Linked DNA regions of Homo sapiens. The protein of the gene in region 5 purifies or fractionates together with the protein of the main gene of each other region. This does not show direct contact. Each region holds a gene or a part of one and is shown on either strand. Other genes may lie near its edges.

The links.
Region 1: the proteins of NUP153 (region 5) and RCC1 purify together in Homo sapiens (affinity purification with mass spectrometry; one large-scale study listed by BioGRID and IntAct). This does not show direct contact.
Region 2: the proteins of NUP153 (region 5) and KIFC1 purify together in Homo sapiens (affinity purification with mass spectrometry; 2 studies listed by BioGRID and IntAct, with this or other methods). This does not show direct contact.
Region 3: the proteins of NUP153 (region 5) and SMPD4 purify together in Homo sapiens (affinity purification with mass spectrometry; one large-scale study listed by BioGRID and IntAct). This does not show direct contact.
Region 4: the proteins of NUP153 (region 5) and YTHDF1 fractionate together in Homo sapiens (co-fractionation; one large-scale study listed by BioGRID). This does not show direct contact.
Region 6: the proteins of NUP153 (region 5) and NUP133 purify together in Homo sapiens (co-immunoprecipitation; 3 studies listed by BioGRID and IntAct, with this or other methods). This does not show direct contact.
Region 7: the proteins of NUP153 (region 5) and KPNA4 purify together in Homo sapiens (affinity purification with mass spectrometry; 2 studies listed by BioGRID and IntAct, with this or other methods). This does not show direct contact.

The regions. Positions count from the first base shown.
Region 1 is NC_000001.11:28,530,043-28,533,542, reverse strand, and holds part of RCC1 (regulator of chromosome condensation), read right to left. Parts: intron 3,021-3,500; coding exon of another isoform or gene 2,928-3,020; intron 1,741-2,927; coding exon 1,553-1,740; intron 1,373-1,552; coding exon 1,193-1,372; intron 1-1,192. UniProt on the Homo sapiens protein: Guanine-nucleotide releasing factor that promotes the exchange of Ran-bound GDP by GTP, and thereby plays an important role in RAN-mediated functions in nuclear import and mitosis.
Region 2 is NC_000006.12:33,394,823-33,398,322, reverse strand, and holds part of KIFC1 (kinesin-like protein KIFC1), read right to left. Parts: intron 295-3,500; coding exon 157-294; intron 36-156; coding exon 1-35. UniProt on the Homo sapiens protein: Minus end-directed microtubule-dependent motor required for bipolar spindle formation. May contribute to movement of early endocytic vesicles. Regulates cilium formation and structure.
Region 3 is NC_000002.12:130,175,103-130,178,602, forward strand, and holds part of SMPD4 (sphingomyelin phosphodiesterase 4), read right to left. Parts: intron 1,536-3,500; coding exon of another isoform or gene 1,491-1,535; coding exon 1,452-1,490; intron 1-1,451. UniProt on the Homo sapiens protein: Catalyzes the hydrolysis of membrane sphingomyelin to form phosphorylcholine and ceramide. It has a relevant role in the homeostasis of membrane sphingolipids, thereby influencing membrane integrity, and endoplasmic reticulum organization and function.
Region 4 is NC_000020.11:63,194,929-63,199,131, forward strand, and holds the end of YTHDF1 (YTH domain-containing family protein 1), read right to left. Parts: intron 1,807-4,203; coding exon 1,780-1,806; 3' UTR 501-1,779; downstream 1-500.
Region 5 is NC_000006.12:17,696,926-17,700,425, reverse strand, and holds part of NUP153 (nuclear pore complex protein Nup153), read left to right. Parts: intron 1-3,500. UniProt on the Homo sapiens protein: Component of the nuclear pore complex (NPC), a complex required for the trafficking across the nuclear envelope. Functions as a scaffolding element in the nuclear phase of the NPC essential for normal nucleocytoplasmic transport of proteins and mRNAs.
Region 6 is NC_000001.11:229,466,842-229,470,341, forward strand, and holds part of NUP133 (nuclear pore complex protein Nup133), read right to left. Parts: intron 1-3,500. UniProt on the Homo sapiens protein: Involved in poly(A)+ RNA transport. Involved in nephrogenesis.
Region 7 is NC_000003.12:160,524,072-160,527,571, forward strand, and holds part of KPNA4 (importin subunit alpha-3), read right to left. Parts: intron 2,037-3,500; coding exon 1,867-2,036; intron 1,774-1,866; coding exon 1,729-1,773; intron 1-1,728. UniProt on the Homo sapiens protein: Functions in nuclear protein import as an adapter protein for nuclear receptor KPNB1. Binds specifically and directly to substrates containing either a simple or bipartite NLS motif.

The DNA.
Region 1 (3,500 bases), on a different chromosome or scaffold from region 5:
CCTGCTTCGGCCTCCCAAAGTGCTGGGATTACAAGCATGAGCTACTGCGCCCGGACTTCTTTTTTTTTTTTTGAGATGGAGTCTCGCTCTGTCCCCTAGGCTGGAGTGCAGTGGCGCGATCTTGGCTCACTGCAAGCTCCGCCTCCCGGGTTCAAGCCATTCTCCTGCCTCAGCCTCCCGAGTAGCTGGGACTACAGGCACCCGCCACCACGCTTGGCTAATTTTTTGTATTTTTAGTAGAGACGGGGTTTCACCATGTTAGCCAGTATGGTCTCGATCTCCTGACGTCGTGATCTGCCCATCTTGGCATCCCAAAGTGCTGGGATTACAGGCATGAGCCACCGCGCCCAGCCCAATTCTGATTACTTTCATGTGTTTGAAATTCTCCATGAAAATTTCAAAATAGATGTGATAAGGAAACACCCATCAGGCCGGGTGTGGTGGCCCACGCCTGTAATCCTAGCACTTTGGGAGGCTGAGGCGGGTGGATCACCTGGGGTCGGGAGTTCGAGACCAGCCTGACCAACAGGGGAAACCCCGTCTCTACTAAAAATACAAAATTAGCCAGGCGTGGTGGCGCATGCCTGTAATCCCAGCTACTTGGGAGGCTGAGGCAGGAGAATCACTTAAACTTGGGAGGCAGAGGTTGCAGTGAGCCAAGATTGCGCTATTGCACTCCAGCCTGGGCAACAAGAGTGAAACTCCATCTCAAAACAATACAAAAACAACAACAACAACAACAACAAAAACCCACAATCTGTTTTTTCAACTACACTCCTCTGTACCTTGGAAACTCTGAGATGCGACAATCCCTGCCTCCACACCTCCTTGCCCCATCCAAGCCTCTGGGAAGTGTGGAAGAGGCAGTGCTGGCAAGGTGAGGGGGAGACAGAAGTCAGGGAGATGGGTGAAGACAGCAGGCCTCCTGGATCAGCCTCAACCCAGGGACATCCTTGACCCACTCACTTCCCAGGACAGACACTTGATGACATCGGATTCAAGGAAGCAGCCAGTGGCGTGGACAGGCCCACATGAGGAAGCTAGAGTCCTGGGTCTGGGCCTCAGCTCTACCTGTGGGCTTTCATCTCCCCACCAGTAAGTACCATGGGGGCATGGAAGTGGATTATCTTTGGGGCCCCGCCAATTAATTCTGTCTTTCAGGGACCATGCAGACTTTCAGACCCAGCCTTACCCGGAAGGAGCCCCAGAGGAAGACACGGCCATCATCGGTGAGGGCTGCTGTGTGACTGTCTCCTGCTGACACCTGTACCACCTTCTCTTGCAGCTCCACTTTCCCAGGGACCATCTCCGAGCCCTCCACTGATGTGTCCCTTCCCAGGGCACCCTCATCATTGCAGCCGAAGGAATAGACCTGTGCCCAGGATGCCCTCATTAATGCAACGTCTGGCCTCGCAGTCCATTCTCATGTAGGCCACTCCCCACTTGACTAGCCAGCTCCATTTCCACAGTGAACATGCGTGGTTCAAAAGCCCTGCCCCAAGCCACCCAACCCCAGGCCTTGTCCAACCCTGTGCCAGTCCCCAACACCTACCTGGCCACTTTTGCTTAGACACACGGTGTGCATGCCCCCAGCCTCAGCCTGCACAACATCCTCCGGAATGGATACCAGGGCCGGCTTCTTCCTCTCCATCACATTCTCACCCAGCCCCAGCTGGCCCACGTCGCCCTGGCCTAGTGTCAGCACCAAGCCGGGTTCTGTGCTGTGGGACCTGTGTGAGACTGAAGGGTGAAGAAGATAGACCCTGAGTGTAGAGGATGACGACAGCGAGGAGAGGTCACAGGCTCTGGGATCAGACAAACCTGTGCAGAAGCCCCTGCTCTGCCACAGACTGTTAGTATGAACTTTCTAAGTTTTGTCATCTGTGAAATGGGGACAACAAAAGTACCTCTCTCACAGGATTTTTGTGGAGATTAAGAACTGAGCACATTATTCACGTGAAAGGGGAGAAAGGGAAACAAGGAGACACTGGATACTGTGAAATGAATCTTGGTGGAGAGGGCAAGAAGGGCTGGGTGCGGTGGCTCACACCTGTAATCCTAGCACTGTGGGAGGCCAAGGCGGGCGGATCACTTGAGGTCAGGAGTTAAGAGACCAGCCTTGCCAACAGTAGCCTGTAATCTCAGCTACTCAGGAGGCTGAGGCAGGAGAATCACTTGAACCTGGGAGGCGGAGGTGGCAGTGAGCCAAGATCGTGCCACTGCCGCCTCCAGTCTGGGCGACAGAGTGATACTTGATCTCAAAAAAAAAAAAAAAAAGAAAAAGAAAAGAAAGCTAATTATTGTTATTGTTATTTTGAGACGGAGTCTCCCTTTGTCGCCAGTCTGGAGTGCAGTGGTGGATCTTGGCTAATTGCAACCTCTGCCTCCCGGGTTCAAGCGATTCCTCTGCCTCAGCCTCCTGAGTAGCTGGGACTACAGGCGCGCGCCACCGCGCAAGGCTAATTTTTTGTATTTTAGTAGAGACGGGGTTTCACCGTGTTAGCCAGGATGGTCTCGATCTTCTGACAGGCGTGAGCCACCTTGCCCCGCAGAAAGCTAATTATAATAGCAGAATCTGCACCGAAAGCAAGGGAGACTACGTGGGTCAGAGAACAATCCCCAGTCTCCATCCAAGCCCTCCTCCATGCCCAAGCCGTCCGCCAGTGAATAAGTTCAGCTCCCGGGCAAATCCACTGCAGAAACGGACTCTTCCCTCCACCATCCAGTGGAGAGGCAGGAGGGGCGGGAGGAAGAGCGGACAGCGGCATTTGCGGGAGGTGCGCGCCCGGGGCTCTCTGTGGGCCAAAGGCGGCCCCCCAACCCGCAGCCCCGGGCAGCCAATGGCGCCCAGCCCCTCCCCCGAGGATGTGGCCACCGCTGAGGAGCCCGCGCTGGCAGCACAGAGGGCGCCCCGGGCGCGGAGCCACCTGGTCGGGTTTTCTGGTCAGGAGGGCTCGGCCCGCAGGCACCTTGGCAGGAGCGGGCGCCAGGAACGCGGCGGGAGGCAGCGGCCCTCGTGTCTGCAAAAGACAGACACTGTCTGAGCGTGGGTCCACACTTCCCCTCCCAGTTTGGTGCTGGCTTTTCTCTCCTCCCTGTCCCCCTCCGGGGTCCCAGGACAGAGGAAACCACAGCCACCTCCCTCAAATGCTGCCAGGCCATTATCTCATCTCATCCTCACACAGCCCAGAGAGGGTGACGCTGCTCTGGCTGCCGCCATTTTAAGAAGTTGATAATCCAAACTGCGGGATTAAGTGACTTGCCCAGCAGCTAGAAAGTGGCAGAGCAAGGACTTGAACCCATGTCGGAAAGTCAGTGGTCCTAACCATAATGCATCACTGCCTGGGGTGAAGCCCTAGGGTCTAGTTTTTTTTTTTTTTTTTTTGTGCCAGTGCTGCCTGAGTGCTTTGAGAGGAGTTTCTGCCCACTTTGTGATTCCCAGAGGGTAGGATTCAATGAGCTACAGGAAACCTTCCAGCTGGGTGGGGTCTCTGCACATC
Region 2 (3,500 bases), about 16 Mb from region 5:
ATTTTGGTCGTTGCACCCAGGCCTCTTGTCCGTTTCTGGGGAAAGATAAAGACAAGGTCCATAGTCACCCTCCCTAATGGTTTATACTCTCTCTCTCCTTTCTTTCACACACACACACCCCCCACACACATGCACAGCTCTCCATGCCCAGCTCACCTTCTCAGGCTCCAGGCCATCTTCCATCTGGTCAGGCCTCCTCTTGAGTCTGCTTCCTGAGAGAGGCAGCTGGGAAGGGGCCTTAATCAGAGGTCTCTTCAGTTCTATGTTCCCCTTTACTTCCAATAGGGGGGACCTCTGTTGGGAAAAGAGACCCTTAAGACAATACCCAGGAGCCCAAATGTCCCAAGAACTTCCTGTCTTGGCCCCCAGCCTCAATTGTCAACACCACCACCAAGCACTGAGCACCACTTGTGCCAAAAGCTGAATTATGTGCCAGACAGCATGAACAGAAGTGAGGACATAACCTAAAAGTGGGAATAACCTCTAGGGGAAAAGCTGGACTTGACTAACTTTAAGGGTGGGACTCAAACAAGCAGAGAGGAATGGATGCTCTTCCTGGAAGGCAAAAATTCAAATATGTACATAGCATGGCTAAGAAACCAACTGGCCCTTTTGGCTGGAGCTGAGAATCATAAACAAGGGAGAGAGTGGAAGATATGTGAGTGTTGAAGACTGCTTGGGAGAATCAGGCAATATTTACTGAGCCATGTTTGAAATGTTTCACCTGGACCGGGTGCAGTGGCTTATGCCTGTAATCCCAGCACTTTGGGAGGCAGAGGTGGGCAGATCACAAGGTCAGGAGTTTGAGACTAGCCTGACCAACATGGTGAAATCCCGTCTCTACTAAAAATACAAAAATTAGCTGGGTGTGGTGGCACATGCCTGCAATCCCAGCTACTCGGGAGGCTGAGTCAGGAGAATCGCCTGAACCTGGGAGGCAGAGGTTGCGGTGAGCCGAGATCACGCCACTGCACTCCAACCTGGGCAATAGAGTAAGACTCCGTCTCAAAAAAAAAAAAAAAAAAAGGGCATTAGAACTTAATTCTGGGCGAGCACGGTGGCTTATGCCTGTAATTCCAGCATTTTGGGAGGCTGAGGCGGGCAGATTACTTGAGGTCAGGAGTTCAAGACCAGCCTGACCAACATGGTGAAACCCTGTTTCTACAAAAATTACCCAGGCATGGTGGCATGTGCCTGTAATCCAGCTACTTGGGAGGCCAAGGAGGAGAATCGCTTGAACGATTGGTGGAGGTTGCGGTGAGCCGAGATCACAACACTGCACTCCAGCCTGGGTGACAGAGCGAGACTACGTCTCAAAAAAAAAAAAAAAAAAAAGAACTTGGCCAGGCGCGGTGGCTTATGCCTATAATCCCAGCACTTTGGGAGGCCGAGGCGGGCAGATCACAAGGTCAGGAGATCAAGACCATCCTAGCTAACACGGTGAAATCCCGTCTCTACTAAAAAATACAAAAAATTAGCCGGGCGTGGTGGCAGGCGCCTGTAGTCCCAGCTCCTGGGGAGGCTGAGGCAGGAGAATGGCGTGAACCCGGGAGGCGGAGCTTGCAGTGAGCCAAGATTGTGCCACTGCACTCCAGCCTGGGTGACAGAGCGAGACTCCGGTCTCAAAAAAAAAAAAAAGAAATTAATTCTCATGGAACCTAGTTGAAAGGGGCTATTCTAGAAGCTTGAGGGCTAAGCTAGGCAGACATCCACCTTAGCGAACCAGATGACATTTGCCTGTGGTCCCAGCTACAAGGGAGGCTGAGGTGGGAGGATGGCTTGGGCCCAGATCAAGGCTGCAGTGAGCCGTGATCATGCCACTGCACTCCAGCACTCCAGCCTGGGCGACATATTGAGATCCTGTCTCAAAAAAAAAAAAAAAAAAAGAAAAGAAAAGAAAGAAAAAGAAAAAGAAAAGAAATAACACAGAGATCTGAGTACCTGAAGAGTTGTTTTTTGTTTATTTGTTTTTGAGACAGGGTTGCCCAAGCTGGCTTTGAACTTTGAGTTCAAGTGCTCCTCCTGCCTTAGCCTCTTAAGTGCCTAGGACAACAAGCACATGCCACTGGACCCAGCAGGATTGGTTTCATGGATGCTAAGTTCAATTTTGGGAAAGTGAGTTTGAGCTACCCGTGATACAGTGAGATTTACTCAAGGAAGTTCACAGAGCATCATTATTTTTAAAAATCATGAAACAACCTGATACACTGTTTTCTTTTGTTTTTATTATCATAACCCCTACATAAGACTGTGAGCACCATAAGAATTCATCTGTTTTGTTCATAACTATATAACCAGAGGGCCTAGTACAATGTCTGCTACATGGTAGGACTCTACAGTTTTTGAAGGAATGAAATTGAATGTTCATCAGTGGGGCAATACTTAAACTGTGATATATCCATACCATTGGCTTCTATAAAAATAAAAAGGGAAAAAAAGAGGTAGCATTTTTCCTGCCACCTACAGAAGTGTGCACAAAGAAAGCTTATTTTAATTTAGTGTAATCAAATATAGTATGGAAACCAAATTTTTCTTTAAGTATTCCAAAGTCAAACACTAATTTTTAAAAATAACCTGTGCCCTTCCTCCTCTCTACACTACCGTAGTGGATCTGCTACAGACCTACCTCCTTGGAATTTATGCCGGTTCAGAAAATGTGTTTAAAGGTTTGTTTATTCAGGACAACTCCAAAGACCACAGTATATATATTTTTCCCATCTATTAATATAAAGCTAGAATGATGCCCTCCAACTTTCCACAGTGAGAAGCATAAGCACTTAACCTTCTATAAGAACAGATATTCATGCAACCCTGCCTACATCCACCTCACCACAAGATCAGAGGTGGATGGCCCTGCTCCTAAGGCAACCCTTTCATATATGCATCACATTCCCATCCCTCCTCACCAAATCCTGGACTCGCCAAATCCTCCCAGTTTCAGGAACATTCCTCCAGCAATCCTCCCTTCTCACCTCTGCACCATCAGCTTTGTACTCTATGGCATCACTCCAATTGGCATACCACAAACTCTATTATTTCTTCGAAACTAAAAGAATCTGAACTCTGCTTTCCCTAACAGGTACTATCCTTTTTCCTTGCCGCCTTTCGCAGCAAAACTCTAAAGTATTACCTCTAGTGTATTCATCGTGGCCAATTTCTCTCCTAAGCCCATTGCAATCAGGCTTTCATTCCCACCATTCCATCGAAATTGCTATCCTCAAGATCACAAGTAACTTCATGTTGCTAAGTCAATTCTTTATCTTCATTTTCTTGACCCATCAAACAGCATCTGATACAACTGATTACTCCCTTTTCCTTAATAGGCTTTCTTCAGTTAGCTTCCAGGAGACCACTCTTTCTTACCTCACTGGCAGGTCCTCCTCATCTCTCCAGATTTTAACAGCATTCTCTATCTATACTCACTATCCACTCCCATGCCTTTAAATATCATTGATATGCTGACAGTTTCCAAATTTATATGTCCAGCTCAGACCTCGATC
Region 3 (3,500 bases), on a different chromosome or scaffold from region 5:
AGTCAGACCCATAACCTCTGGCCTGGTTCCCCAGCCCCTCATGTGTGTCAGTGGCCCAAAGAGTACTACTAGGAGAGGCCGTAGTTCTATGCTCTCTGGACCAGGAACTATCAGCCTTGTTTCCCAGTACCCCCTCAGAGTGCTGCACATGATCAGAACAGGATTGACTTCCACCAATCCATAAGTAGGGGTTGGTCCCAGAGTCAGCCCCACAGCCAGAAGAGGATCTTGACTGTGTAAGGGCACCCCTCACAAACCACAGAGTATAACTGAGTTTGTACGCATCAACTGGAAATTTCCAGCCTGATGGACCACCGTGATTACACCATTGTGATCATCAGTAAGAACGCCCAACAACATCACGGCTATGGCAGAAGCTCTCTTAAATGAGCTGTCCTTTATTCGGTAGACACTGAACCACTAAACCAATGATCTTAAAACACAGGGCAGACAAAAATTATAGATGGCTTCAGCCAAGTAGACACTAATCATGAAGGCAATGGAGAGGCCAGAAAAGACTCAGGACAAGGACTAATGAAATCTACCTAGTCGTGGGATGTGAGGAAAGCACCCTGACTACAAGGAGAAAAAGGGCATCTGTGCGAATGGATTAAGATCAGGAGAAACGGCTAGAATTTCAACCTAGAGAGCTTTGCCAAAGGATATCTAAGGCCTTGTCTACCTCCAAACAAGGGTGGATTTCACAGTGATTGAGACAGAGATGGAGACCTGAGCTATCTGGCCATGGGCCAGACCTGTTGACTCTAGTGGGGTGCACTGAGGAAGAATGTCCTTCCACATAAATGTTTACAAAAACACCTCCTAAGAACTAAAATTAGGAACTTTCATCACCAATACTTGCCTCATATCTAACTTCTCACTTCTCAGTATCATTTTTTTTTCCTTTTTGAGTCTTTACTATGTTGCCCAGGCTGGTCTCAAACTCTTGGGCTCAAGTAATCCTCCTGCCTCAGTCTCCTCAGTAGCTGGAACTCCAGGCATGAGCCACTGCACCCAGTTCTCAGCATCATGTTTAATACTTAAAGTGCAACCTAGCAGGCCCCCGCACAACAGTGTCTCCATTTTTCACTGATGACAGTTATGACTGATTATTAGAATACTTCATATCTATTTAAGAATTTACAAGTCATGAACATTCTGATATACATCCTTCTCACTTGCTCTTCCTCCTCCTCACACCCTTGGGAAGTAGAGAAAATAGAATTTGAATGAACTTGTGTGAGAAAACCCAGAGCCCAGAAGTTGAGTAACCCCAAGGTCCTGTAGTAATAAGGAGGCACAGTCAAGTTAAGGAGTCTGCCATTGTTTCCATCACATGCCCCTAAAAAACAACCACTACAGAGTTCTTCAAGTCAATGGGAAGAACACTCAAGTCCCACATCTACAGAACTATGGCCACACTGACACTCATGCAAGCAGTTGATATTTACCAGTAGAAAGCTGGGCTGCTGCAGGTGAGGGAACGCCATAGCAGCCTCCAGTGGAGAGTTGAAAATGGCCTTCTTAGCAAACCACTGTGGAAAAACAAAGACAAAATCTCAACATCTGTAACACAGCAGAATCTTTTTATATTATTTTTTTAGAGACAGGGTCTTGTTCTGTTGCCCAGGCTGGCATGCAGCAGCACGATCATAGCTCACTGCAACCTCAAACTCCTGGGTTCAAGCAATCCTCCCACGTCAGTCTCCTGAGTACAGGCACGTGCCACTATGCCTGGCTAATTTTCTTCTTTTTTGAGACAGGGTCTCGCTATGTTGCCCAGGCTAGTTTGTCAGGCTGTGATGCCCAGGATCCTGGCCTCCACTGATCCTCCTGCCTTGGCCTCCTAAGTGTTGGGGTTACAGGTGTGAGCCACTGCACCTGGCCCTAACAAAATATTACATAGTTTCACAATGCCCAGGAGAATATCACACATTACATTACCAATTCGCAACACACATTACATTGCCAATTCTCATGTCTTACTTATTGATTAGAGACAGGCTCTTGCTTGCTCACTCAGGCTGCAGTACAGTGGTGCGATCATAGCTCATTGCAACCTCAAACTCCTGAGCTCAAGTGATCCTCCTGCGTCAGCCTCCCAACTAGCGGGAACTACAGGCAAACATCAACAAGCCCAGCTAATTTTTGTACTTTTTGTAAAGATGGGGGTTTCATCATGTTGCTTAGACTGCTCTTGAACTCCCAGACTCAAGCGAACTATCCGCCTCAGCCTCCCAAAGTGCTGGGATTACAGGTGTGAGCCAACACGCCTGGCCAGCAATTCCCATCTTTTATAGAAATGCTGTTCTCAGCCGGGCATGGTGGCTCCCACCTGTAATCCTAGTACTTTGGGAGGCTGAGGCAGGAGGATCACCTGAGGTCAGGAGTTCAAGACCAGCCTGGCTAACATGGTGAAAACCCGTCTCTACCAAAATACAAAAATTAGCCGGGCATGATGGTGGGTGCCTATAATCCCAGCTACTCAGGAGGCTGAGACCCGAGAATCACTTGAACCCAGGAGAGGTGGTTGCAGTGAGCTGAGTCACACCACTGCACTCCAGCCTAGAAGGCTGAGCAAGACTCCATCTCAAAAAAAAAAAAAAGAAAAAAAGAAATACTGTTCTCCTGCAGCCCATAGTGGCCAGCTTCAGAGCCAAGTTTGTAGTACTGAATCCTCGGTAATGCTTGTACAGCATTTGTTATATACCAGGACTCGCTCTAAATGCTCTCTATATATCTCCTCATTTAATCCTCAGTGGTAGGCAGAATTCTAAAGATAGCAGCCCAAGATTCCCGACCCCTGTTTGTTCAATCAAATACTCATCTAGGTACTGCTATGACGGCATTTTGCACATCCAATTAGAGTCCTAAGTTAGTGGACCTTAAGTTACAGAGTAGTCCCCAGCTGACAGCCAGCAAGGAAACAAAGACCTTAGTTCTACAACTCCAAGGAACTGGATTCTGCCAGCAACCTAAATAAACCTGGAAGCAGCTTCTTCCCTAGAGTCTCCAGATAAGAGCAAAGCTACCAACACCTTGATTTTAATCTTGTAATGCCTGGACTTCTGCATACATAACTATGAGATAATAAATGGATGCCGGTTTAAGCTGCTAAGTTTGTCATACAAGAATAGAAAAACCAACCTCACAACAACCCGATGGGTACAGATGTACTATGACTGCAGGTCAGTACAGATGATGAAGGAGAGGCAGAAATGGGATAATTCACTTACCCCCACCCAGCTAGTAAGTGGCAGAACCAAGATTCCAATACAAACACCACCTCACAAAACTGAGACAGGGGCAAATCCCCTCCATATTACCTGTGCACTATGCAATGAACGGAGGGGAAGAGCAAGCTCTGCCAAGGGAGCCTTTGAATAAGCCATGAGAAAACTAGGATCAAAGGCCGGGCACCATGGCTCACACCTGTAATCCCAGCACTTTGGGAGGCCGCGGTGGGCAGATCACTTGAGGCCAGGAGTTTGAGACCAGTC
Region 4 (4,203 bases), on a different chromosome or scaffold from region 5:
CCTAGTACTTTGGGAGGCCAAGGCGGGCGGATTGCCTGAGCTCAGGATTTTCTGGGCTGAGGCTAATATTGCATAACTTTATCACATACTTGTCAACTTCTGCAGATGTACACAATGTGCATTTCACTGCTTATAAATTTTACCTCAAAAGGAAAACAAACTAAACAGGTATTAAACTCTTATTGCATAAATAATAAGAGGCATTGGAGGATGAATGGAGAGAGACGGTGAGGAGCCAAGTCCAGAAAGGGGGTAGCGGTGCCCAGGTGCTGCACGCACCGCTGCGTCTGCACATTCATGTGATGAGGGGTGGGTGACGGTGCCATGTAGTTTATAGTCTTAAGGAAATTAACAGCTCCCTCTTCCAAAGCGAGGGAACGAGAATCCCACACCTTGAGAAACACAGGGCTTTCTACGGTGACTCCCCGAATGGCTCTGCAGCTTAAAAAGCTCCAACACATAAACTCATCAAGTAGGGTGAAGAATGAGGTGACACCAAGTTTGCTAAATAGTATTGTTTATTAAGGCTTGTATTCTCCTAGAGGAAAAACCCAATGTCGTCCAGGACTCCATTCAGGCAGTAACAGTTCAGAGGAAGTGACACGCTCTAAATACAAGTCTAATGATACAGCTGAAACGTTAACTCAGAGGGTCTTTTGGAGCAAGTAGTTTTCAGAAAGCGTCTGCTCTCTAGGACGGTAAGGATCCTCTACAAGGGCACGTGCAGATCCAGGCGCTGGAGCGTCAGGCATGGGCACCATTTTCATGCTTCAACTCAAACTCCAGGTGGTAGTGAGCTCAACGGTCCCTCATTCCACAAAACATGACAGCAAATTCATCTTCTAAAAAAAGTTTTGTTTTGTTTTTACCCATTCAACAGGAAAAAAAATTAGACACACACGATGAAATTTACAACCAGCAGCATCATCCATCACACTGTCTGTACTACCAGATCCTACACTTAAAGCTCAGCATTATTGGTATAAAAACTTAAGACGGCATTAGAATTCTTAAGAAAAGGTGTAAAATTTAAAAAGATGTGCAAACAACAAAGAATGCCCGACCCTGAACCAGACCTAAAGCACCTTCCAGTTCCTCCACACATCATGCCCCAACACCATCCAGCCCAATCGGACACCAGGACAGTGAGGGACGGGTGGCTGTTCAGTGGGCAACAGATCTGGAAGGAAAGATTTTCAAAAAAAAAAAAAAAGTGTCTGCCAAATTTGAAAAATTAAAAGTTATCTGTCTAGCAGAAAAATCAAATGGGTAAATTAGCACTTTAGACCGATAACAGATAATAAAATGACAAATCAGAATGAACAAAAAATCATTAACCTTTTGATTTCAGTATTTTCAAGAGATTTTATCAGAATACTCTAAATGACAAAATGACTCATGGTTTCTTATGTTTGCTAAAAAGCAATAAAGGGATGAGAAATATGAAGTCTCACAGAATATCAAATGACTGAATTTAAGAACACAATTTCTGCCAAAATAGATGCTTTGTTTTTAAGGATACTTACATTTCACATTAGATCAGTCTGATTGATAAGCTGACAAAAAAAATACTCCTTTATTAGTGACTTCTACAGGATTATAATACATAGAAAAAGTACAAATAAATGCAGATCCATCTGGGCAAAAATCAACGACAAGAAAGGCAAAGATGCAACACTCAACCCCCGCACGGGACGACACACTGGAGCTGACCAAGCACACGTGTTTTAAACTGTTTTCAAAGTCAAACGTTAGAACATGTAAGAAACTGGTTCGCCCTCATTGTTTGTTTCGACTCTGCCGTTCCTGTAAAAAGAAAAAACAAAAGTTGAACGCAGAGTAACCACACCAATGAATCCCTCCCAAAAGTGAGATCCGAGGCTGCCCCTTAGCAGCACCTGCAAATCTGGAGGCGGGACCCTGAATGGTACCCAAGCCACACCAGCACACAACTCTGAGCTGCACTGGGGCCTGCTCTGTGGGGGACTGGCCACACTGGGCATGGCATTCTCCCCACCCCCTCTACCAGGAGAAAAGCATCAACCACAACGGTCACATGGGCCACCTGTCTGCTGGGAAGCCTCACTTCCCACAGCTGTCTTTCCCTCATGTGCCACTATCATTCCACATGGAAAGACACTTAGCAATGTGAAATTCTCTGCACTCAGAGGGAGGAGCTGGCACGCACCAGGCTCTCAAGGAGGCCAGGGAGACAGAAGCTGTTCTTCTGTATTTTATCTCATTTAAACTTCTCAGTGGCACAAAGGACACCAAAATCCTTCCAACTGGCTAACAAGGTGCTGTGTCATGTGGCTAATGAAGGGCAGGAGGACCGGTGTGGGCCTGTCCAGTTCAGGCCCTTCCCACTCCCCAGCTCACTCCCACGCCAAGGGGAAGAGCATGCCCCTCCCCACTCCCCCACGGCTAGACTGGCTCAAGGCAAAGCTCCTCTGACCAGGTTTGCTGCCCACTCCCGTAAGAGAATCATCTTTTCCAGAGTGTATGTGACACACAAGCTTGAGACTTACACCCGAATCTTTTCCCACACTGGCCTCCCTGAGTAGCAGGGTCTAGAAGCCCCTTCAGTCTCCTTACAAGGCAGCATACAAAGATGAAAATGTGCGATCTAAGGAGCACACGCTGCACCACTCTGCTAGAGAGGTGTCCCAGGCCGAGTGTGGTGGCGCACCCTGTAATCCCAGCTATTCGGGAGGCTGAGGCGAGAGGATCGCTTGAGCCCATGAGTTTTCGGCTGCAGTGAGCTATTATCTGCCCTGCACTCCAGCCTGGGCAACAGAGAGAGACCCTATCTCGAAATAAAAACAAAACAAAAAGATGCATCCCAGGCACATCCACCCTCATCTGGCCATCTATCAAGATGCAAACTAATAAAGAAAACCAGCGGGCAGGACACCCAAACATTTAACCTGAAACCTCCTCTTTTGCTAAAAATGGACTGAATGTGTCTTCCGGTTAATAATAAACTTTGCTGGGCACTGGAATAAACACCAGCCTCCTCAACTGTGGCTGCTCTCAGAAGCAGATGTGGTGTTCCCTGTCCCGAGAAGGCTCCAGAGTATTTGGATTAAGGACCTGGATAGGCAGGTCCTACTCTTAAGAATTAACATTTCCTCCCTACCCTCAAATGTAAAACTGGAAAAATTAAGAACTCTGTATTTTACATTCTCTTAAACATTCTCCGTTAAAAAAAATCTCTTCCCAGGCTGGGTGTGGTGGCTCATGCCTGTAATCCTAGCACTTTGGGAGGCCAAGGTGGGTGGATTGCCTGAGCTCAGGAATTTGAGACCAGCTTGGTCAACATGGTAAAACCCCACCTCTACTAAAAATACAAAAAAAAAAAAAAAATTTGGCAGGGCATGGTGACCGGCGCCTGTAATCCCAGCCACTCTGAAGGCTGAGGCACAAGAATTACTTGAACCTAGGACGCAGAGGTTGCAGTGAGCTGAGATTGTGCCACTTCACTCCAGCCTGGGGGAGACAGCGAAACTCTCAATCAATCAATCTCTTAACAAAAGAGGTACTGCTGTTCCTAAAAAGCAAATACCAATCTCTTGAGTTCAAATAGCTGATGTTAAAGCCACTCACAGGTAAACTCCCCAGATCCCCATCTCCCTTCAGCCCTTATAAACAGCTACAAAGTTTACTATGTGCTCTTTAAAAAATACTATTCCTCATAAAATTTCTCAAAAAAAAAAAAAATGACGAAGCACAGCTCGTTCTTTTGAGGAATGCTCAACAAGCATCCAGGAAATGCTTATGGCCTAAGATTCTCTATGCTCTTTCTTAATTTCCAAAGTCAAAGAGCCACTCTGCTGAGCCGGCCTGGAGGTCGAAGTGGGGTCAGGTCAGGGGCACCTGCCGCCAGGGCAAGGACAGTCAGTCTGAGGAACTAAGCAATGCTCACAGTGTGGGACGCTCACCACTTTCACTGTTTTAAGCTAAGAAGTGGCCGTTTCTAGGTTTTTTTAAAACCAAAAAATGTATCAACCCAGGACTTGGTCTGACTCTGCTGCCATAAAAGCTACTGCCATCCTAAGAAATCAGTATGTTTCTAAATTTATAGCTGGACAGCAATCTTGCAAAATGCTAACTCTACTTCACTTTCTCAACACTCAACTTGTTTATGACCTTTACAGCAATGGGGCCAAACTCTAAATGATAAAGAAAAGGTGGGTCTGTTCT
Region 5 (3,500 bases):
TTGTAGTGTAATGGAGTCAGCCTGAGTTTGGATCCCTGTTCTGCCTGGACTTGGACAAGTTAATTTACTCATCTGTAAAGTGAAAATTGTTGTGGAGGTTAAATGGGACAAGTGAAGATTTTAGAACAGGACCTGGCATATGTATATAGGTAAGGAGTTATTAAAAATTGAGTCCTTATTATATATATGCAATTGAAATTTGAAATTAAATAGAACTGTTTGATTTAGGATCTTTTTTTTTGTGGGAGACCACAGTTTTATTATTACTCAAATTAGTCTCCTGATTTAGGGTCTTCATATTGTCTCTGAATTTTCCTGCTTCTTATCAGAAGTTTTGTTTCCTTTAGGTGACTAAATTCAATACTTGCATGTATTAAATTGTTTAATGCAAAGTAGGTGTTTTGTTTGTGATGAGAGGTTTTGTGTGGTATTATATTAATTTACTTAATTTTTCTAATAAGTGACAAAAAAGTCCACTTGCTGTATCCATTTTCTGGGAAGTCCCTGACAAGGCAGATATCTTAGTTTGAAGTAAAATAAAAATTGTAGTCTGATGTCACTAATTAAAACTGTTTACTTTTCTTTTTTTTTGAGACAGAATCTAGCTCTGTCACCCAGGCTGGAGTGCCATGCTGTGATCTTGGCTCACTGCAGTCTCTGCCTCCCAGGCTCAAGGGATTCTCCTGCTTCAGCCTCCTGAGTAACTGGGGTTACAGGTGTGTGCCACCACGCCTGGCTATTTTTGTATTTTTAGTAGACACGGGGTTTCACCATGTTGGTGTGGTGGTCTCAAACTTCTGACCTCAAGTGATCTGCCCTCCTCGGCTTCCCAAAGTGCTGGGATTACAGGCGTGAGCCACCTTGCCCAGCCAAAACCATTTTCATTAGGCACAGAGTATTGCAAAGATTGTAATTATCTTGTATTTTCTTTTTTTTTTTTTTTTGAGACGAGTCTCGCCCTGTCACCCAGGCTGAAGTGCAATGGTGCGATTTCGGCTCACTGCAACCTCCGCCTGCCAGGTTCAAGCAATTCTCCTGCCTCAGCCTCTGGAGTAGCACGCACCATTATTCCTGGCTAAGTTTTTATATCTTTAGTAGGGACGGGGTTTCACCATGTTGGCCAGGCTGGTCTTGAAGTCCTGACCTTGTGATCTGCCTGCCTCAGATTCCCAAAGTGTTGGGATTACAGGCTTGAGCCACCACGCCCAGCTAGCTTGTATTTAAAAAAAAAAAAAATTATTTGTAGCTATTTAGCTTATCTTCATGGTTGTAATATATTTTTAAAAGATTCTTCTGTGTTGGGAAGTTTGGTTTCAAGTCTTGCTGACACATACCATTTACTGTCAGAAACAGGATGATAGGATGCCTTTTCTATCTATAGATATTTCAGTTTGCTTGATTTTGCATATCTTTTTCTTAGTGTGATTTAAGAAACAAACTCTTACTCCCAATTTTCAAACATGTTACCTGAGAAAAAGTGTGATAGTATCTTGTAGGTAACTTTTAGTGAGTTTAACTACTGTGAGCTTTTATTGAGTTTTCTTTTTTTTTTTTTAAGACAGTGTCACTCTGTTGCCCAGGCTGGAGTGCAATGGCACGATCTTGGCTCACTGCAACCTCCGCCCCGCTCTGGGATTCAAGTGATTCTCCTGCTTCAGGCTCCCAGCTCTTTTTTTTTTTTTTTTTTTGAGACAGAGTCTTGCTCTGTCGCCCAAGCTGGAGTGTAGTGGCGCGATCTCGGCTCACTGCAAGCTCTGCCTCCCGGGTTCACGCCATTCTCCTGCCTCAGCCTCCCAAGTAGCTGGGACTACAGGTGCCCACCACCACGCCCCGCTAATTTTTTGTATTCTTAGTAGAGATGGGGTTTCACCATGTTAGCCGGGATGGTCTCAATCTCCTGACCTTGTGATCCGCCCACCTCGGCCTCCCAAAGTGCTGGGGTTACAGGCGTGAGCCACCACGCCCGGCTGCTCCCAGCTAATTTTTGTATTTTTTCGGTAGAGACAGGGTTTCGCCATATTCCCCAGGCTGGTCTCCAACTCCTGGACTGAAGCAGAACCCCTGCCTTGGCCTCCAAAGCACTGAGATTACAGGCGTGAGCCACGGTGCTTGGACCTGAATCTAGTTTCAATAATCTGAATTTAACATCCAAATCTAAGACATTATTGGTTGTATTTTATAAGCCTATGCCATTCAGCAGCGAAGTTTACCCTATCCAATCAGTCCAAGTCCTCTAGCCATTTAAAGTACTTTTCTAGCTGAAGAATTAAAAACCTGCTCCCTGGGAGAATAAGATTCCAGAACCTTAAAACTGATGATGGACTGCATTTGATATTTATAGTTAAAGATCCAGTGAAACTATTTGAGAAAGGAGATTTTATAATCTGAACACTGCTAAGGATAATGTGAAGAAAAGGGAGTTGAACAGAACTGAAGTCAAGAAAACTAGTAGGAAGAAAAGAGCTTTGTATAGAAGGAAGGAAGGATATATAGGAATGACAAGGAGTTGGCCATACTGAAAAGATGCCTCTGGTTATTCCTGTGAAAAGGTTTATAAGAAAAGAATGTCGTTAATTACAAGTGAGTTCTGAGTTAGTGTTATAGAATAGCCTTCCCCCACCCCAGCTGTTTCTGAGTTAGTGTTATAGAATAGCCTTCCCCCACCCCAGCTGTTTCTGAGTTAGTGTTATAGAGTAGCCTGCCCCCACCCCAGCTGCCTTTCATTAATCCTTTTTTTTGAGATGGAGTCTCGCTCAGTCGCCCAGGCTGGAGTGCAGTGATGTGATCTCGGCTCACTGCAACCTCTGCCTCCTGGGTTCAAGCAATTCTCCCTCCCTCAGCCTCTCAAGTAGCTGGGATTACAGGTGCCTGCCACCACGCCTGGCTAATTTTTGCATTTTTTAATGGAGACAGGGTTTCGCCATGTTGGCCAGGCTTGTCTTGAACTCCTGACCTCAGGTGACCTGTCTGCCTCAGCCTCCCAAAGTGCTGGGATTACAGGCATGAGCCACTGCGCCCAGCTCATTAATCCTTCAACTCAGGTTAAATATAATTTGAAAAGCTAATGTATTCACAATACCTTATACGTTGAATGTTCCTGATATGTATGTAGTATTGAATTCTAATCCCCAGATTGAATTTTTAATTAGTCTAAATCTCAGTGGCATTTTTGACATGTTTTGCCAAATGAAGAACCCTTCTTTCTTGGAGAGAGAATACCCAGTGGATTTAGCCAGTTCACATTCTAAAATTCACTCCTTTAATCCTTGAACTTAAATTTATTATTTATGATTATGAAGTGTGGACTTTGCTTTAGGGCCACAGAGTATTTTTTAAGATTAATTTTTTTTTTTTTGAGACGGAGTCTTGCTCTGTAGCCCAGGCTGGAGTGCAGTGGTGTGATCTGGGCTCACTGCAACCTCCGTCTCCCAGGTTCAAGTGATTCTCCTGCCTCAGCCTCCTGGGTAGCTGGGATTACAGGCGGACACCACCTGCCAGCT
Region 6 (3,500 bases), on a different chromosome or scaffold from region 5:
CATATCCTCAGACCTATAGATGGAGGAAAATTTATTGGCAGTTGATGGTAAAAATAAATTCAAAAATCAAGAAAAGTCACATCTCCTAACTTTTAAAAGTCAGAGTGCCCAAATAAGTCTTATAAACAGGCAAATTCTGGATTGTTACTGAGATTTTTAAGCGATGATATTTTTTATTATAGCTACTCTGCTCAGTGCATCTTTAAATAGCACTAGGTTACAGATGACATCACTTTACAATGTAATACCCCAAACTAATGAACTAATAGACTAAAATAATGACCTCAAAAAGTGAACTTGCTAATTTCTTTCTTTGAGGAATTCCCCTTCTTCAGACATAACAGAAACATTTGTAGAACAGAAGTAAGCAACATAAGAGAATGAACTAAATACATAACTTCTAACTCTTCCTTTGTCATTAATTAATACATGGAGATAACAGTGCAAAAATACCATCAGGCACTGAAACTCCTGTTTCAAGTTCAAGTCTGCACTTAAGCTTTCCCCCCATTATTTAGAGTTTGCATAGCAATGGACACTCAGAGATAAGAGGAAAGAAAAATCAGATTAGCTGCCCTCAAGGACCTCACAAACTGGCTGAAGGAACAAGTTATATAGGCACAGATAAAACATGACCCAAACAAAATCCCTCCCTTTTGCAAACCTTGTTCTTCCTTTTGCATTTCTGATGTTAGCCAAAGGCATCCTAACAGCCCAGGCAAGAAATCTTTAGCACATTTAATTTATAAGCTTAAGTGTAAGAATATTTTACATTGTTAACATGAAAAACACAATGAAAGCCTATATAATGGCCGGGTGCGGTGGCTCATGCCTGCAATCCCAGCACTTTGGAGGTGGGTGGATCACAAGGTCAAGAGATCAAGACCATCCTGGAAAACATGGTGAAACCCTGTCTCCACTAAAAATACAAAAATTAGCTGGGCGTCGTGGCGTGCACCTGGAGTCCCGGCTACTTGGGAGGCTGAGGCAGGAGAATTGCTTGAACCAAGGAGGCCGAGGCTGCGGTGAGCAGAGATTGTGTCACTGCACTCCAGCCTGGCGACAGAGCAAGACTCAGTCTCAAAAAAAAAAAAAAAGGAAAGCATATATAATATAAAAGACAGAAAATAACATAAAAGCACATAAAATGCCAAAACACTTGTTAAATTCTCTTATCATGTATATATTCAGTGATTTCAAATATTGCTCATATGCCGTGTCAACATAGTCTGTTCCTTAAGCAGTGAGCTCTGCTTTTCCAGAGCCCTGGGAGGTACAAGGCCTTCCCAAACTGGAGACAGAGTCAAAGTGGAGAGCGCACCCTCAGGCAGCTCTGTATTGTTTTACTTTCTATCAGGGCTGCCAAGTCAAAATATCGTTCTATATGGCCCACCAATCAGAGATTGATTTTGGTTAACCAGCTCGTCCCAAAACACAAATACTCCTTAGACAGGTAACTTGTCACCCCCAAGTGGAAGGACAGGTAAAAAGAAAGAAAAACTACTATATGCATATAGCTATTGTATTCTCTTTTCATGATCATTATGACACGGGAGAAAACCTTTATAACTACACCCCAGAGAAGCTAAAGACCAACGAACATCATGAGAAATGAAGATAAATAGTGACAGGAACAGTCCTAAACATTACCATTTTTCATATGGAACATTCTTTTGAGGAGCCAATCACATTTTTAGTTTTGCTGTATCATATTCCTAAAATATTATTCTATATGTATCCAACTGATAATTTCCAGACCCTTCTCCAATAATTCAGCTAACTGAAACATGTACATACACTAAATTGACACTTATACTTTGCCCTTTGATCCAAATGCAGAATAATGAACCAGGCTCTTGCTCAGTTCTTACAAGTAGTCTGTAATTAATTTTAAAAAATTGTCTTATCATATAAAATTATATATGAATAAAGACCAAAAAGGACACAAAAATGACAACAACTTGATTTGTTAGATCATGAAACTTGAGGTGATTTGTTTTTCTTTCAGATTTCTGGCATACTGTCTAGATTAAAAACAAAACATAACAAAGTGCTTTTCCTTCCATTCCCCAGGAACTAACCCAAATGCATAAAAGCAAAGAATTCACACTAAACACATTTATGGAATCAACAGGAAGACTGAATTTAGGTTATAGTACATCAAACTTAGGTTACAGTACATCAAACATTAAGAAAAAGAGACTTGTCGGCACAGTGTGCTACATGTTAGAATACAGCTAGGCTATAGGAGGAAGGAAGCAAAATTTGAGACACCAAATAGAGTTTGAAGTTCCTCAAATGCATAAGGAATTCCAAATTTCACAGAGCTCAGGGAAGAGCTGGCCCTGTTTCTAAAACCAGATAGTTCTGCAGTCTCAGTTAAGACAACAGGTCTAAGTTCTAATGTCACACCTTTAAAGGGAGACAGCGAAGTCTGCCTTGCTGCCTCATCAGGCTGTGAAGCTTCACAAAAGCACGAGGACTGCGTCACTATTTCCACAATGTCCAGCTGCCACTGGCTGCCCAGCATCTTAACCATTTCTGTCTTTGAAGTTTGTAGCAGACTTTACTTTTTCTCTGAAAATAAATCTGATTCTACAAGCAAGGTGTAGCAACAGGATCCTAGGAGGTAGCTGAGGAGTTCAGTGAAGGTACTGTTTGCAAAGGTGTGGGCAAGATTAAGGGGTCCAAAAAGGGATGGGGCAGCACCCTAGGATGAGGCATTATCAACCTCAGGCCTGAAGAGGCACAAGGAGGGGGCAGCTACTGGAAACACAGAGAAAGCAGTTGGACAGGAGGCACAGTCCCTGACAGAGGGGCACAGCCAATGTAAAGTGCGCACAGGCAAGGAAGAAAGCTGGCAGAATAACTACTCCAACTTCTGGCCTTATGGCAGGGCCTCACATTCATCTGACCTGGCAGAAGCCGGAGGGCAAGGGAGCCCATTCAGGAAGGCCACCTTGCTGTGGCAGAGTCAAGAGTAGATCTGCCTGGCCAACAAGGGTGAAACCAGGTCTCTACTAAAAATACAAAAATTAGCTGGGCATGGTGGCACATGCCTGTAGTCCCAGCTACTTGGGAGGCTGAGGCAGGAGAATTGCTTGAAGCCAGGAGGCAGAGGTTGCAGTGAGCCGACATTGCACTGTTGCACTCCAGCCTGGCAACAGAGCAAGACTTAGTGCCCCCTGCCCCCAGAAAAAAGAGTAGATCGAGAGAGACAAAGGAGAAGATCAGGATGGATGCAGTAGCTCACGCCTGTAATCCCAGCACTTTGGGAGGCTGAGGCGAGTGGATCACCTGAGGTCAGGAGTTCGACATCAAACCCCATCTCTACTAAAAATATGAAAATTAGCCGGGGTGGTGGCTAGCACCTGTAATCCCAGCTACTCGGGAGGCTGAGGTAGGAGAATCACTGGAACCCGGGCAACAGAGTGAGACTCCATCTCAAAAAAAAAAAAAAAGAAGATCAGCATGCAAAGCAAATAGGTACTTGGAGACAG
Region 7 (3,500 bases), on a different chromosome or scaffold from region 5:
ATCATAATTCAAATCAAACTTCTAACACATTATTTAGTAAGCAATATTATTTGTTAATCATGTTACTAAAAAGAACAATGTAAACAGGCTTGAGAAATTCTTCAAGATACATCAAAGGCAAGAAAATGGAGTCACAGTCTCATCTAGATTGGAGTAAATAGGTGGAAAGAACACAATCTATCTCTAAATAAAGTCAACCAAGATGTCTTGTTTTCTAGTAGAGGTATAAACTTTGAAGTTAAATCTTTCTTGCCAATCGTTTTATTTATTTATTTATTTATTTATTTTTGAGACAGGGTCTTGCTCTGTCACTCAGGCTGCAGTGCAGTGACATGATCACAGTTCACTGCAGCCTTGACCTCCCCAGCTCAGGAGATCCTCCTGCCTCAGCCACTGAGTAGCTGAGACTACAGGTGCACATCACTATGCCTGGCTAATTTTTTGGTATTTTTCATAGAGACAGGGTTTCGTCATGTTGCCCAGGCTGGTCTCGAACTCCTGCACTCAAGTGATCCTCCTGCCTCAGCCTCCTAAAGTGCTGGGACAATAGGCATAAGCCACCACACCTGGCCTCTTGTAAATCTTTCAAAGCAAAATATTGAAATTCACAATTTAATCAAAGAACTTGGCTATTAAGGAGCCAAAACCAAAAATTACTTACACATTTTTTAAGATCCTAAACTATCTGGGGCTAAAAACAAACAAAAACTCTACCACAGAGATCATGTTCATCTAATGAATTTTATATATTATGTCACTGTTTGATACAGTAAAATTCTAATTTTAATTTGTTCCATACAAATTAAATTCTGGCCAAAAGGCATAGGCCTTTAAATTGTAAAGAAATGAAGCAGCTTGTCCAACACTGGTCACCATGCCAAACTGTTTTTAAAGAACCACATGAGTTCCTGATTGTTGCTAAACATTTCATTCATGTGTTTTCCCTTACCCATTATATTCCTGGTTTCTCTAACACACCAAAGGCTGGTCTGGCTTTTACAAGCACTCAGGGCAGTTTTCCACCTCATTCATACTCCCTGAGTTGCTTTTTCCTCTGCCATCTGTGTTAGTAAAAATAAGCAAAATATATTTGCTATGTTTAAAATCTTGCCTGCACTGATTTTTTTTTCCTGTTGTTTGGATAATCAAGTTATCTTGATAAATGAAGCCACTGCCAGTCACTGTAACTGAGAAATAGAATAAAAATGGAATTAAAGGGCAATTGATGTCCATGGTTTGGTATGTGTATATGAATACAAATCCATGCACAAACATTTTCCTTTTTCATCTTTCAAAAAACAAAAATAGCACTATTTGTGTGTGCTTTCATTGGCCAAACTGTCAAAATGACCTTCTGTAAAAAGCACAAGAACAATTAAAGACATGATCTTAGTAAGAGAAATCACCACTATCTGGCAACTTTAAAAACTTTTAATGTCAGTTTTTATAACACTAATATATACACATACATACAATATTGTCCACACCAAAATAACAGTTATGCTTGATTTCTTAACTGGTATTATATTTTGTGATATAGATAAACATAGAGTAAATATTAAAATATTATAAAATAACTAATCTAATATAAAATAACTCTTGAAATGGGAAAATCTGATAGTATGCTGACACAATGTGTTAGTATAATATTTCTCCCCTATGTCACAGGGGAAGCCCTAGAAATACATACATACATACATAAATATATAATAGGACACATTTACTCACATTTACATCTGTGTGATGAATTAAAACACAAAGGGCTGGAAGAATCTGAGGAGAGAAATATGTAGATTTAAAAACATACACAAATAAAAAATATATATATAATGGTATCTCTTTTAATTTTTTTTTAAAAGTGTTTACCTCCTGAATGGTTTCCATTGGTGGTGGTGGGTCTTTGTGGCGACATAAGTTGACCATAACCCAAGTAACATTTCTTAAGAATGTTATAGGAATAGATGGACTTATGAAGGAAAGTAAAGGTTTCACAACTCCAAGACTTATGACATAATCTCTACACTGGGGCCCATCACCTGTAGAAAAAAAGGATTAATTTACTCAATAAAACATACTGACAGTAAGCATTTTCAGAAAACACAAAGCACTGGGAATATGCTGCTTCATGTATTTTATCCAGATACACTGTTCAGTTTTAGACAATAACAAGCAGGCTCACATTCAAGGTCTCTGAGCCAAGAGAGGCAACATAAAGTGATAAGGTATTCTTTTGCACATTATTCCCATCTTCAGCATTTTGCTGCTCACTTAATTAAACTGCTGCTTTTAACTTCTCTCTCAACAATACTCTTGGTTTAACAAACTTTCATGTGATAAAAAAGATGTATCAAGAAAATATTTGTTGAATTTGTACTTATGATCCCGTATCAGAGCATCAAGGTTATGAACTATAAATTACTCTATACACTTAGAAAACTATGTCAGAAGAAAAGGGTGAACCAGTGCTAGAATAGTGGTTCTCAATGTGATTATTGGGCTCTAGCTCAGGCCTCCTGAAGCAGAAACTCTATGGGTTTGGAATTCTGTGTTTTAACAAGCACCCCATGTAGTCCTGATTGCATGCTAAGGTTTGAGAACCACTGCTGCAGAGAACTGCCAAGTTTAATTTCTGTATCTGAAGCATCACTGCAGTTTCTAATATGAAGCCATGTTGAAATGTTACCATAAGTGAAAGCACCTTCCCTTGCACTATAATATCTGGAGATAAAATGTTTGTTCTTTTTGCATCTTTATATTCATGTTAATTACGGAATGTCACTGGAATAAAAAAATGAAAGATCAAGATGCTGTATAATAGCTCTAAATCTAACATTTGGTATAAAAGCAAAAGAGTGAGGGAGTCTGGATATAGAAACAATAGCATTCCTAATAGTATAAACCCAATGTCAAGAATGGTTTACAGAGAAATTCTCCCTTAAAAACTCATAACCACTCTTTACTTTCATGTTGGCCCTGTATAAGGGCAATAAAGAGATGGCATATCAAAGCAACAATGATTATTTCCATGCAAGAATAAAGAATTTGGCAAAAATAATCTTTAGAATCATTCTCCTTCACTAGATTAGCAATACCCCTACAAACAGTACCTCAGCCCCCACTCATAACTGTTAGGTCTCTGAGCTATACTGGGGCACAATACAATTCAGATTTTTTCCATCCTTTACTGGAGAATAGTTCTTTGAATTTTTGAGTTTAGGCTCTAGTTAAAAAAACAAATCCTTGAAATATCAGAATTGTCTTTATTTTCCTTACAATTATTTATCAGAGAGAACCTGAAAGTTATAGTAATCACAGTGTTAAATATTTAACCAGACTGTCAAAAGGCTATGGTTATGTCTTGTTGATTCATGGTGACAGGAAATAATATTACTATATTTTATACATTACTAAATTCTAATGTACTGAAGTCTGCAAGAGAGAAAAAATTTCATTTTAGACTCTTCTCAGAACTGTCATTACGGAGAAAAATTATTGGTTTA